Linked DNA regions of Homo sapiens: region 2 is linked to region 1. Evidence: fine-mapped expression QTL. Tissue or cell type: whole blood. Region 1 holds a variant in brackets; the other region holds the start of a gene. All regions are shown on one strand. Distances are between the middles of the regions.

Evidence for each region. PIP is the estimated chance that this variant, and not a neighbour inherited with it, causes the effect. A credible set is the group of variants that fine-mapping cannot tell apart.
Region 2: it holds the start of LINC01479, and the variant in region 1 is the best candidate, but not a certain one, in a credible set for the expression of LINC01479 in whole blood (TOPMed, PIP 0.62).

What each region holds. Positions count from the first base shown.
Region 1 is chr12:67,677,589-67,686,089 of GRCh38, reverse strand. LOC105369816 (a long non-coding RNA gene) reads right to left here. Exons shown (of 3, transcript XR_945052.3): 1 at 7,342-8,501; 2 at 7,118-7,227; 3 at 940-4,858. Among named protein-coding and RNA genes, the nearest start is that of DYRK2, 33 kb to the right of the region's middle. The variant G/A (reference allele first, on the strand shown) is at 4,711.
Region 2 is chr12:67,927,661-67,933,768 of GRCh38, reverse strand. LINC01479 (long intergenic non-protein coding RNA 1479) reads right to left here and starts at 4,534. Exons shown (of 3, transcript NR_120456.1): 1 at 4,382-4,534; 2 at 1,380-1,492.

The DNA of each region.
Region 1 (8,501 bases):
AATAAAAATCTCAAAAGGTTTGTTTGTAGAAATCAACAAGCTGATTCTACAATTCATATGGAAATGCAAAGGACCTATAAGAGCCAAAACAGGCTGGGCACAGTGGCTTAAGCCTGTAATCCCAGCACTTTGGGAGGCTGAGCCAGGCAGATCACCTGAGGTCAGGAGTTCGTGAGTAGCCTGGCCAGCATGGTGAAACCCCATCTCTACTAAAAATACACACACACACACACACACACACACACACACACACACACACACAATTAGCCAGGCATGGTGGCTTACGCCTGTAATCCCAGCTACTAGGGAGGCTGAGACAGGAGAATTGCTGGAACCCAGGAGGCAGAGGCTGCAGTGAGCTGAGATTGCGCCACAGCATTCCAGCCTGGGAAACAGAGCAAGACTCCATCTCAAAAAAAAAAAAAAAAAAAAAAAAAGAGCCAAAACAATTTTGACAAAGAAAAGCAAAGTTGGAGAACTAACTGTGTACTTTCAAGGCTTATTATAAGACTAATCAATACAGTCTGATATTAGAATCAAGATAAACAAATATATCAATGGAACAAAATAGAGTCCATAAATAGACCAACACATATTTCAGCAACTGATGTTTGGCAAAAGTACAAAGGCAATTTGGTGAAGAAAGGAGAGATTCAACAAATGGCATTGGAACAATTGAATACATGTATGCAAAAAAAATTAATTTTGTTTCAACCACACACAAGGATTAGCTTTAAACTGATCACAGACTTCAATACAAAACCTAACACTAAACCCAATAGAAAATCTTTGTGATCATAGGTTATGCAAATATTTGGTAAACATAACACCCAAGCATAATCCATGAAAGGAAAAAAGGTAAAGATTGAGCCTCACCAAAATAAAAAATTTCTATTCTTCAGAAGGCACTGTTAAAAGAATAAAAAGTCAAGCTACAGATTGGAAGAAAACATTTGTAAATCATATCTTTAATGAAAGCTTTGTATCCAAAATACATAAAGAAAACTGAAATCTCAATAAAAAGAAAAAAAAACAATTTTTTAAACGACCAAAATATCTGAACAGATACTTTTCCATAAAGATATACAGATGACAAACAAAAACATGAGAAGATAGTCAATATAAATAGTCACCAAGGAAATGTAAAATAAGACTGCAATAAGATACCACAACATAGCTGTCAGAATGGCTGATAGAGTTGACTGCCAAGATAAGGATGTGGAGAAACTGGAATTCTCATATACTGTAAAACACTTTGGAAAACAGTTTGACAGTTTCTTAAAAATTTAAACATATGCCTATCATATAATCCAGCCATTCCACTTCTAAGTATTTATCCCAAAGAAATGAAATCCCAGCCCATACCAAGACTTGTACATGAAGGATCACAGCAGTTCTATTTGTAATAGCCAAAAACTGGAAAAAGCAAAACAAAAACCAGATTTCCATCAACAAGTAAATTTGTTAATTGTGGTTTATCCACAGAATGAATGTATTGTTACACAGTATAGTGTGAATAATCTCAAAATAATTATGCTGAATGAAAGAAGTCAGATGTAAGAGTACATACTATATGATTTCATTGATATAAAATTCTAGGAAATGCAAGCCAATTTATTGTCACATAAGCAGAACGGTGGTTGCCTGAGATTGGGGGAGTGGGAAGAGGTAGGAAGAAGAGATTATCAAGGTGCATGAAGAAACTTTAGAGCATGATGGTTGGTGGTTATGTTCATCATCTTGATTACTGTGATAGTTTCAGGGGTGTGTACCTAAGTCCAAAATGTATCAAACTGTTCACTTTAAATATGTGCAGTTTATTGTATGTCAATTACACCTCAGTAAAATTGGTAAAAACTAAATAAAAGTAGTGCTTGCATATGAATTTTTAAAAACCCTTAAAATAGGACAAAATAGAAATTTCTCTGAAGATTGCTTCCATAACACTGAATATGGTTATGCCTCTCTTTACTAACTTGTCAAGTTTAAACATTCGTTGATCTCTCATTTTAAAAAAATTGAAAAAATAAATTTTCTCAAGCTACTACCTCCCTTTTCCGATCTCTGCCCATTAAATTTTTATTTTTTAACTTTTTCAATGTTTTGTGTTGTATTTTCATTTAACTTTGTACCTGACAAAGAATTGTATATATTTATCATGTCAATATGTTGTTTTAAAATATGTATATATTGTGAAATAGCTAAATTGAGCAAATTAACATATGCATTAGCTCACATACTTAACATTTTTATGGTGACAACACTTAAAACCTATTCTCTTAGAGCAACTTTCAAGAATATAAAACATTGTTATTAACTATAGCCACAATATTGTACAATAGATCTCCTGAATGTATTCCTCCTGTCTAACTGAAACCTTGTATCCTTTGACCAACATCTTCCTAATCCCCCTCCCCGCATTTTCTTTACCCATTCATCCACTGATGGACACTTACATTGATTTCATTTCTTGGATACTGTAAATAATGCTGCAGTGAACATGAAAGTGCAGATGTCTCTTTGGCATACTTATCTCATCTTCTTTGCATATATACCCAGAAATCCCATTTCTGGGTAATATGTAGATTTATTTTTAATTTTCTGAGGAACCTCCAGACTGTTTTCCATAATCAATGTACTAATTTACTTTCCCACCAGCAGGGTACAAGGGTTCCCTTTTCTCCAGATGTTTAGTTGTTTTCCATCATCATCATCATCATCGTTATCATCGGTAACATATGATGATATAGAATAATTTTTTATGTGCCAAAGACTGTTCTAAGCACTTTATATATATCAACTGTTTTTATTTTCAAATAACTTTGTGAAATATTAACTATTTATTTTCAATTTTTGCTGAGAAAACCAAGGCACAGATAAGCAATTTGCCCAAATTGAAGTGTGTGGCAAAAATTCAAACGCAGGTGTTCTGGCTCCAGGATCCATGCTCTTAACGACTATGTTATAGTGCCTCAGTGTGATATCACTACAATTAACAAATTTATATAAGATACTTGAAACCCTATTTTGACTTCTCAAATGTAGACACAATATCTCTTAATTCTTTTTATTTCTGATGAAAAGAATCCAACATCATTACATCTTGTTCCTTTGCTCCTTCCCTCTCTCCTAACCTCCATTCCAGTGTACTATTGTTTTCACACTTGTCCTATAACTACAATTAATCTTTGATGCATTGTCTATAAATTGATTTTTTAAACTGAAAACTGAAAAGTAGCATTCATAATATTCGTAGGGAGATCATTGTTCACTGCAGAACCAAGCACAGCTGTGCCCTTGAGCCTATAGAGGAGACGTAACTCTTGTCAATAAACCTTTGCTATTGGAAGAAGAAAATTACTTCACAGTTTGGAGAGTGTTTGGATGATACCTTATCACAATGACCTACCATGCCTTTGCCTTGTCACAAGACCACTCAGCTTCTCAGTCATTCAATTTATAGAAGAAATCCATGTCCTCCTGAAAGAGATTCTTCACAGAGCATCTGACTTCTGGTTCTAATTCAGACTGATGGCTTTCTAGGCCTGCCTCAAGGTTGTCATCCTGGAATTATATTTCATTACAATCTTGGGTGAGATCCACTGTTCCTTAGAGGCCATGGCTTCCTCCTACTTGGATTCTTTTTTGTTTTGCTTCAGTAATTCTTTCAGAAATAGTCTGTGGGTGGTAAATGGTCTGAGTTCTTGCATGCTTGAAAATGCCTCACTCTTGATCGATTGATAGTTTGGCTAAGTAGAGAATTTTAGGTTCAAAAAACTTTATTTTACACATTTTGAAGGCATGCTTCTTGTTTTGTTTTTCTTAGCATTTACAGTTGCTGATGATCTATCTAATACCAATTGGATTCTCACTGAGTAATCTATTCTTTTGGCTTTTAGACTCTTCCCTTTATTCTCAATATCTAAAATGTCACAAGAATGTGCCTTGGGCTAAGTTTGTTCATTCATCCTATTTTGCATTCTCTAGGGTTCTTACAATCTCAAGTCCTATTTCCTCACTTATGGAAAATTCTCTCTTATTCTTTGTTTTGTCTCTTTCTGAACATCCCTTTGGATGCTTCTCTAATCTCTTCACTTTTCTCCCACATTTTCCATCCTTTATCTTTTTGCACTACATTTAGAGCAGTTTCTTCAACTTTTTCTCCCAGGTCTTCCCTTGAATTTCTAACTTTAACAATTACTTTTTCATTTTAATAACTATTTATTTTGTTTTAGTTGTTCTTTCTTAGCAATCTAATTTTGCACTAAAAATGCTTTCTCTCGACTTTGTTTCCATGAGGATACTACATAGAATAAAGAATTTTCTATGTCCTGAATTATCTATTTCCTCCAGAGTCAGGGTATTTTTTCTCTCAACCTGCTCTTTTGTCCTCATTTTTCTTCAGGTTTTCATAATCCTTGGCTATAGATTCATACCTACAACTGAGGTAAGTCACCTCATTCAATGCAGATAGCTCGGCCTTGTCCAGCTCTCTCTTGTCTACACAAGTGGCTGTCACTGGCAGCCTTTGCTTTAGACCTTGTAGTGAAAGAAGAGGAGGTTGGAGGTCCCCCTCCCTACTTCTCCCACTTCCCAGCAAAAGTGGGAAGAAGTTTACTCAGATGAGGCATCACCCCAACTAGGGCTCCTTCTCACGAAGACTATTCAATTATTTTAAATATTAGTCCTCTGGTTTTAGCCTGAGCATGT[G/A]ATGCAGGGAAGGAGAACATGGACTATGACTCACGCAGTTATTCCACAGTTGATTTCTTTCCAACTCTCCTTTCATACTCCAAGTGTTGAGCTTCTCTCTGGGTCTGTTGCCAGGAAAAATAGCTCTAGCCTCTACTGCAGCCTTCTCCTGTGAATGTGATTTAAGCTGTTAATACAATTCCAAGTATTCCCACTTTCAAGAAACTTATCTATATCCCTAGTTCCTGATGCCCTTTCTTCTGTACCGAGTAGTCTTTAATTTATTACCCTTAGTTCTTCTTTGCTGACATTTCTATGAGATTTAAAGTAGAAAGGAGATATGTGCTGTGTCTGCCATCTTGAATGAGAATTCTCTTTGCCTCTTTGGACATCTTTGTGCTTTTCTCATTTTGAGGCAAAAGACTCCATATAGCTTCTTCTCAAGGCCATAGGACAATACAAACAATTCCTTAATTTATCTTCTACTTGTCAGCTCTCCAAATATTTGAAACTAGTTTTATATTCTCCTATGGTGTCCAGGATAAATATTTCTAATTCCACTAACCATACCTCACTGAAATTTTGGTACTATCATTCCAATCATTTTCTTCTGAACTTTCCCCACCTTCTTAAATAATTCAATGCAATACCTAAGGTACTAATGCTCGAAACTACTTCAGAGTAACCTAGTCTTCCCTACTACATCACATACACACAATGGCCAGCTACTTCCTTCCCTTCCCTAGGCAAATAAAATTAATATTACATCTCTACCAGCTGCTGTGAAAACTCTATGCAATGGCGACATATTTAAAAGCCATGAAATTATGAGAAAATAGAATTTCTGTCCGAGAATTTCCAGGCCCCCTAGCATAACTTCTAACTTGTACATAATTACTTTATCACAGAAATAAACGTTATTCAAAAATTCTTAGTTTTAGTCACTTTGGAAAGAATAATACTATGTGTTAAGAAAGAAATTTGGGATAACTGTTCCTAAGCTGATTAAAGTATGCAGTTGAAGCCACTATATACATATATACATATATTTTTTTCTTCAGTTATTTGAACTGGAACTCCAAAACTCCAACACATTTCCCATTTCTCATGAGCAAAAATGAACACTTTTCTAAGAGCCTCACATTATTGTAAAATTGCCACTAATTAAAATGTGTGTAATATTTAAAAATCAATAAAAAGAGGGTAAAGGTAAGTATTATATCCACCTAAAACAGTATCACTATAGTGACATCCCTTTATAACAACGTTTAAGAAAATTAAATAAAATATTGTCTTACAAAGTTACATGGTACAGTTCTCAACTAACACAAAGATTTTTCTAATACGTGTAGCTTCCTTGGAATTTTCTTTGCCCCAGTTCCTTGGAGAGACTACTTGTAAACCCCAAAAGAAAAAGGTTTTTTAATATGTGTAGGGAAAGATTTATTTCAGATGTATTTTTAAAACGAGATATTTAATAGGAATTTAAAAGATGTTTTCAAAATCTACATATTTGTTTATCTGTTGAAAAGAATTAAGAAACTATTTCACGCTAAGCACTAGTGATTTATTAATATAATGAAAAAACTTTCAGTCTCTATTCTCATAGATCTTGCACAGGTGAAAGATATATTGATTCAAATTTGTTAAAGCACTTTTTTTTCTACACTTTGTTTAAGGGAGATTTAAATGCGCACCAAATATATGCCGGCCTGGAGAAGGCAAAAAGCCTGGCAGCGGCCGGGCGTGGGGGCTCACACCTGTAATCCCAGCACTTTGGGAGGCCGAGGCGGGCGGATCACAAGGTCGGGAGATCGAGACCATCCTGGCTAACACGGTGAAACCCCGTCTCTACTAAAAAAATACAAAAAATTAGCCGGGTGTGGTGGCGGCCTGTTGTCCCAGCTACTCAGAAGGCTGAGGCAGGAGAATGGCGTGAACCCGGGAGGCGGAGCTTGCAGTGAGCCGAGATCGCGCCACTGCACTCCAGCCTGGGCGACAGAGTGAGACTCCGTCTCAAAAAAAAAAAAAAAAAAAAAAAAAAAGCCTAGCATCTTTTCCATTCTCTGGGTCCAATGCACTGTGTCAATAACACTTGTGCAGTGTTGGCTATGAAGATTCAGCAGTGAAAATTTAGTTGGAAGTTAAGAATACACCTCAGGAAAAAATTATTTCATTACCCCATTCTTATTTTCTCTGATCAATGAGAATTTGGAGACCAGACATTCCCGTTTCTACAGTTGCATGGCGACACCTGCATGCCCAGTATTGGTGGTCCTGTTGAATCTCCTACTTGTAATACTGGGTCTCCTGCAAGCCTCGTAAAATGCATGCTCTGCCCTGGACAGCCATCTTTAGTTCACAGGGCACACCTGCTCATTCACACTTCCTTTCCTTTGCCTGAAATGCACTTGCTATTCTCATTTACCTGGAGTCTTCTTACTTCTGTTTCAAGGCTCAGCTCAAACACTGCTTCCTCGGGGAAGCCTTCACTGACTCCCGGGGTGGTGAGTCAGCTCAGTGGCCTTGTAGCAACAACTGTGAGAAAAGACAGAGCAGGAAATGGATCTCGGCTCTAGTTCTTACCAGATTTGTAGTTATGTAAACTTTCTGAATCTTAGTTTTTCCCATCTATAAAATACAGATACTTACCTTGCAGGGCTGTTTTGAGGATGAAATGCAATGGTGAAGATAAAGTCCCTACACAGAGAGCTTGGCATGACAGCACACAGTGTTTTCTATCCTCCTTGTTTTTAGCCACACCTTTGAAAGGCAGGAACTTAAAATCTCATGCTTAGATCCACCATGGTCTCTATTATGGAAATCATTTGGAAAACAATAATATGAAGTTAAAATTAAAGCCAGCATTATTAATCAAAGCTTGTTAAAGATTTTCCAATTATTTACAAAGCTCTTTCATGTAAAGTATGACTATGAAATAATTAGAATGATCTTTTACTTGAAATGTATACAAGCAATACTTTCAAAGATGCTGATCAAAAGCCTCAGCACTCTGTGTGAGAACCTATAAATTTTACATAGAGGTCAATGCTATATTCTTAGCAATCACATCTGCTCTTTTACCTACTTTACAAACTCAGAGGTAGGCAGGAAGTACACAGTACACCGATAGCAAAGATTCCCAGGGACAATAACAATATAAAAACAATAACTTTTTTTTTTTTTGAGACGGAGTCTCGCTCTGTCCCCCAGGCTGGAGTGCAGTGGTGCAATCTCAGTTCACTGCAACCTCCACCTCCCAGGTTCAAGTGATTCTCCTGCCTCAGCCTCCTGAGTAGCTGGGATTACAAGCATGTGCCACCATGTTTGGCTGATTTTTGTATTTTTAGTAGAGACAAGGTTTCACTATGTTGGCCAGGCTGGTCTCAAACTCCTGACCTCGTGATCCGCCCGCCTCAGCCTCCCAAAGTGCTGGGATTACAGGTGTGAGCCACCACGCCGGGCCAGCAATAACTTTTGTATTTTATAAGAATTTGCATTACTTCAAAGTCTTTCACTCATGTCTTAAACATTCCACAAACTTTCATTACCCCTCACAACATCCCTGAGGCAGGTCAGTAGTGCTCAGTTGTCCCAGTTTCCAGAAGTGTATGCAAAAGTCCTTCAACATCAGTATAACAGAGTAACAGAGTGATGCTGGGTGTGGTTTTTTTGTTTGTTTGTTTAAATAGGAGGTCAGGAAGATGGAATACTCCTCAACAGGTGAGAAGCTGTTATGCCTTTCCAAGTAGTATTTGTTTCCCATGGGCTATATGTTTTTCGTCAACATTTTTACTCTGTTTCAAGAAATT
Region 2 (6,108 bases), 250 kb before region 1:
TATTATTTGGTATGGGCTTTGACCATATATTTTATTTTCATGACAAGTTAGGCCTACTTTTCTTTCTCATGTTTTAATCCTTCCTACTTACAAAGCTAGAAGTTGGCATCTTAAAGATAGGATAGGATGAGGGTAAAGATATTTCTTACATTTCTGGAAGGAGGTGTGTGTGTGTGTGTGTGTGTGTGTGTGTGTGTGTGTGTGTGTAAATCTTCAGGGGAAGACTAAAGAATAACTGTAGGGAATAGTGGCAAATTAATTTAAACTAACATACTGTAATAAAGCCAACCCCTGAGATCTGTTCTTCTGGATGTTGTCATAAATAACACTCTATTCATTATATGGGCAAACATGAATTCAAACTAAATCCATTGAATTTTGTTAAAAAGTCATTTAACTCAGGGTTTAACTCAGGTTCGTTCTATTTCTTTTTAAATTTTATTTTATTTTCAGTTAACCAAATAATTGCATATATTTATGTGGTACAATGTGATGTTTTGATATGTTTATCATGAGGAACGAATAAATCATTTCTTTTAAAAAATGCTTTCTTTTAACTCTAGTTCATAGCAGTATTCAGAGGAAAGAGTGTTCCTGAGTTGCAAGGATCTTTACTGGAGATTTTTTTCTTCTGACCCTGGTTCTTTGACATGAGTAAGACATAACTGATACTGGGGTGATTCCTGTAACTGGCATAGTTCTAAAATGAAGTGGACACAAACTGTTTTCCATTTAAATATTTTAAACTGGCATATATATATCAATAATGGAAACATCTGGGTACATGCTGAACCTTGAATCTTTGTTGTATTTGTTATTTAAAATACACAGATACCCCACCAGTCAGGGTCTGTGCTGTTCCTTGGGCCTCTTTGCTTTTCCAGCTCAGACCTGGCTTTATATGGTCTGTTTCAAGCTCTTCCAGCCTCCATCTTATCAATACTTCAGAAACCTCTAAGGCAGATAGAGGTAGAGTCAGAAGACCTGGATTTGAATATTCCATCATTTGCTTATTTTGTGACTCTGGGTAAATTATTTGACTTCTCTGAGGTAACTTCTTCATCTACAAAAGTAAGAAAATGCTTAATAATTATTTTTAGTATTAGGCCTTTAATTTTCCATGCAAAGCTCTACTCTCATAATTCATTTTGAATCAATGATGGCTTGAAAAATATCCTAGTCATTTCCCTCTGGTAATTTCCCTCATGCCCCACTTCTACGTTTACCATTGATATCAATATTTGTCAGCATTTAAACAAATTATAATGATCTTCCCCCCAAAGGGATTTTACTATTTTTGTTGTTCAACATTGACATTTTCCCACTTCACATCATTTTTGGAAATGGGTAAATAATGAATAAAATGAGTATTGATATACCTTGCAAGATAAATTGTCTCACCGGAATCAGATCACTTCGTTTCACAGCAGTATTGGAATACTTAATCGAATTTCTCAGTGGAGCCACAGGCATGACTTCATGGGCAAGGCTGCTACAGGAGATCAAGTAGAGGTGGAAGAAGAGTAAAGGAAAGGTGAGAGAGGGTCTGATAGCTACCTGCTGCCCAGGTAAGAATGAGGATAAACAAATGGTTAAGCATCATATGAAAGGCATGGAGTTCTTGGAGGTGTGGGGACCCACAGAGCCAATCAGATGGGCTCCCTGAGGCTACCTGACCAGAACTGTGTGCACCTGATAAGCAGGATGGCTACGTAGGGGCTCGGAGAGGAGAGGAAGGCAATGAAGCTGCCTGCTGGCACAGGATGCCTTCGCCAGCAAGACCAGGAAAGGACAGTGTTCAGGACCCAGCTCAAGCCAGCAGTGGAATATCTGTAGTGAGGAATGGAAGCTCACTGCCCCAACAAAAGTGATGCTGCCACTCAACTCAACCCAGATATTGAATTGTTTCAGTTGTCCAAAGTAACAGTATTCTTTGTGGGCCACTGTGACATGGTAAAACATTTTGTTCCTAGCAGATGGTATAAACTTAGTGAATGTTTGCTGAATTTACTCATTCACTTATTCATTCAAAAATACCTATGAAACTTCTATTTTAGGCCCGACACTATTTTAGAGTATAGAAATATAGTCATGAACTAGATAGGCAAGTCCTTGAAGTCATGGGTTTCTATTCTAGAAGGGGAGTCAGATACCTAAATAAACAAGCAGAATAATATTAGGTAGTGACAAGTGCTTATCATTAGACTTATCTAGAATGATGTTTTAAATACAGTGGTCAGGGGAGTGGTATTTGAGGCCTGAATCATAAAAATTAGCCACCTACCCTAGGATCCATACAAAGAGAACCTCAAGTGGATTCAATAACATGTAATGCTTGCTGATTTGTTCTATCCCTTAAGTAAATCTTATTCTAATATACTTCATTCAAAATAGTTGTTGAACATGTTCCATATTCCAAGTAATGTGTTAGGTGCTAGGGATATAAAAGCAAAGCCATAGCCCCTGCCTTCAAGGAACTGATATTCCAATATGGAGATCCAGAGGTGTGAACAATTACAATAAAAAGTGAGAACTGCCCTGATGATGGAGGCATGGTCAGTGGGAGATTTCTTGAAGAAGTACCTTTATTGTAATGAAGATAGCAAGACTATCTGTGTGTTGGGAAAAAAAATGTCCAGGGGTGTCTCATGTTTCTGCAAGCCTTGTCAACAAAGAGACTTTTATTTGGGACTGCCTTCCAAGAATATTTGTATGGTGAACTTCTTGGAGGTTAGAGGTAGCGTGCCTCTCTCAAGCAGAGAGATTTGTTTCTTAACTAGGATACTAAAAAAAAGGTTTCCTTCTAAGGAAAAAGTTGGGCAGGTTTCCTTATAGCCTCTTTAAAAGCTTGTAGTTTCCTAAGCTCGGGGTTTTTCACCTTTGGTGCAAACCGACTGCGTTTGCAGCATCTACCTTGGCCACCCCCTAATGCCCCATAGGATTTGGAGGACAAGAAGAACCTACATGAATATTGGAGCTGATGCTGCTTGCTGTGCCATGAGTGATAAAGTCCTCTGTGTCTGACTCAGGAATCTGTGTCTTCTGCAAGAATCCATGCAATTGTGGCGGCTCCCTTGTTAGCTTGGAAGCAGACAAAACTTCACACCCTTAATCATTCTTAACATGGTGACAATATTAAAATTATTTCAGGTTTATGAGCTTTATTTTTCTCAGTGGAAAACTTGGGATAAAAATTCTAACTTCACAAACTCATTGTAAGAGACAAATGGAAGGTCATAGGTGTAGCAGAGATGGTTAGCTATTCCCTAATATATGTTCTCTCTCTCTCTCCTCTAACATAGAAATTGTAGTGTGACAAAGGCTACCAGACTGACTAAAACATCTCCTAGCCTCGTTTGCAGCTAGCTGTGATCAAGCAATAAAGCTCTGTCAATGGGGTGTGAGCAGAAACACAACTTGCAGATGATGCTCTTGCAAGGAAGGAAAATTCTCTCCCCTTCACCTTCCCTCCTTCCCATTGCCTGGAATACAGACACAGTGGTAAGACATCTTGGAACATTTGGATGGGAAACACCCTACACATGGCAGAGCACTAAAACAAAAGGAACCTGGAGCCTCTGTCCTCTTGCTGTCACCATTCAAGTCCTGGACTGCAAATATACAGACTGTCACATCAGAAAAAACTTCCCGTCTTGTTAGAGCCACTCCTATTTGGCATGTTTATTGAAGAAATGAACTGGTATTCTAATGAATGGAGGAATGAGAAGATCCGAGTGAGGGATTAGAAAGATGCTATTGGTGATGGTAGAGAAAAGAAAATAGAGCCAGATAAATTAGGAGGGAGATCACCTAGCTGCCAAGTAATGGGTTATTTTTCAGAGGTTTTGAATGTTGGCAAATCTTTAAGTCTTACCTGGTCTGTGGACTCTTACAAGAAGTTTGAATTCCATAGTCAAATTAGGAACACACTGACTTAAACATAATTCTTTATTATAGGTAGTACAAGTGTTTTCAGCACTAAAAGATTTTATGCCTCTTAAAAGAGAGGGCTGAAAATAAAGTATTCCTCATACTTATCTGAAAATGAGACCTTTCATCTAAAACTAGTGTTCATGGCCACTAGAGGACACATGATCCAATGCCTATGGGATTTAAAGACGTCTCCCAGCCCTCTTAGAAATTTGTAACCTGCAGTAACACCCAAATAGTCAACAAAGCAATTCACAAAGGTATTTGTCAGATAGGATGAAATAGACATGTGTGCATGACACATACACACCCTTTTCCAAACCAGAGCCAAAAGTTGCAGATACACCAGAAACCATGCGGTATCAATTTTCCCCTCTAAAGAGTTCAGCTTTGTTTTTGTTCCAAGGTGTGAATGAATAGCACAAGGACTGAAAAGGATAACAGTTCCTACCTTGATTCCACTTGAAGATCTTCATGAAGAAAGTCCTTGCTGGAACCTGAGCAGACTGAATACTAATTTCTCTTAGCAAGACATTACACTGCATGGTGGATGGCCTTCTTGCTCAGGAAGTTCATGACAATCCAAGAGGCAAAATGAAAGGAGGCAGAACAGAGCATGTAAAGTCAGAATCTTGTGACTTTGGCCCTGAGAGTGTTTGATCTGGCAGGAACTATTTTCCATGAGTAACCGAGTCCTGTATAGCACTTATGGGATCAAATGGCAGTATAAATTGGATCAACAGTTAATGTCTTAATTCTCTCCATGACCAATGTGAGGAAAAGTAATTCTATTTAAATCCTTCATAGAAAAATACTTCATGCAGAATCCTGGGGGGAAAAGAATTAAAAATTGTGATCTCATGTCAAATATTCCTGCAGTTTTCTCAACAGTACAGTTAATCCTTTGGGCTGGCAAAAGCAGGTTTTCTTTCATTATTTTGGTCTGTATTGGCAACGAAGTTATTAGGTGCAAAAGAAACACACACAGAGATGTCACACCACACTTGACACTGTCACTGTGGTGACAAGGTTTTCTCCAGCTGTCAGTGTCAGAAGGATTTCATTCTGTTTGATGCCACACGGTTTTGTGGTGAGAAGTGGCAGGCAAGCCCTTTTATTCCTTGTAATGTCTTCATTAATAATAGCAGTCATCAATTACCAGAGAAAAGGAGTACAAAATAAATTGTAAACATTATAACCTGGGGTCTTTATGGAGGATCTTTTATATTGTTTCATGGAATTGGAGGTGAATTCAGCAATAGGATTTTTGAACTCTGGAAAGATAGGGGGAAGCTTCCATTTCTTATATGCATGTTGGTCACATAAGACATCAGTCTGTGTGCACAGTTTCCTCATTTTCTTCAATGGTCTGGGTCATTACTTACCCAACAATCTGAAAAAAAAGTACAAATTATGTGTCTAAGTCTATACAATGAGAAGGTGACTTCTTTTTAAGAGCCATGAGAACTTCTCAGAATAAGAATCTCTTTTACAAACCAGTGGAAATCTATCAATCTTAGTTTGGGGGATACCAGGTAAGGTTTCTTCTTTGTAGGGTTTCTGGAGCTTTTAATGAGATGATGCATTCTGTGAAGCTTTAAGGGAAAAAGAAAATATACAGTTTCCTGAGTTTGTTTCATCACAGAAACATTTGTTATGGGCCTAGATAGTTCCATGAAACCTCTATTTTGGAAAGGCTAAAGGAATTAGTTAATCCATTAGCTTTTATATCTAATAAGCACATACTGTGCCTACAAAGAAACAAAAGTTTTCAAGAAACGCCCTCTTAACCTGGCAGTCGGACCAAAGTCCACATTCTTGGTGAGGAAGTTAGGCCTAACAATGTTTTAGCAGAGATATAATTTGATCCTTGGGACTATTTAAGAATACAGCAGTAAAAGTTGCTTACTTTGAGCTGTGGCAGAGATGGGCTGCAGGATTTGTGCAATTCTCATCTCACTGGTTGGAATTCTCTTCTCTCCTATTTGAGAAAATACAGTGTGAAAAAGTCACGTTCCTGCAAGGGTAGAACTCACAGTCTCTAAAATATGACCTAGTGATTCAAAAAGATTGGTACTTTGCTGTTTGACAACATTTTTCAGTGAACCATCACACTTTAAAATAGCCCTGTATAGAGCCCTGACTCCAAGGATCCTGAAAGTATCCCAGAGAGGCTTT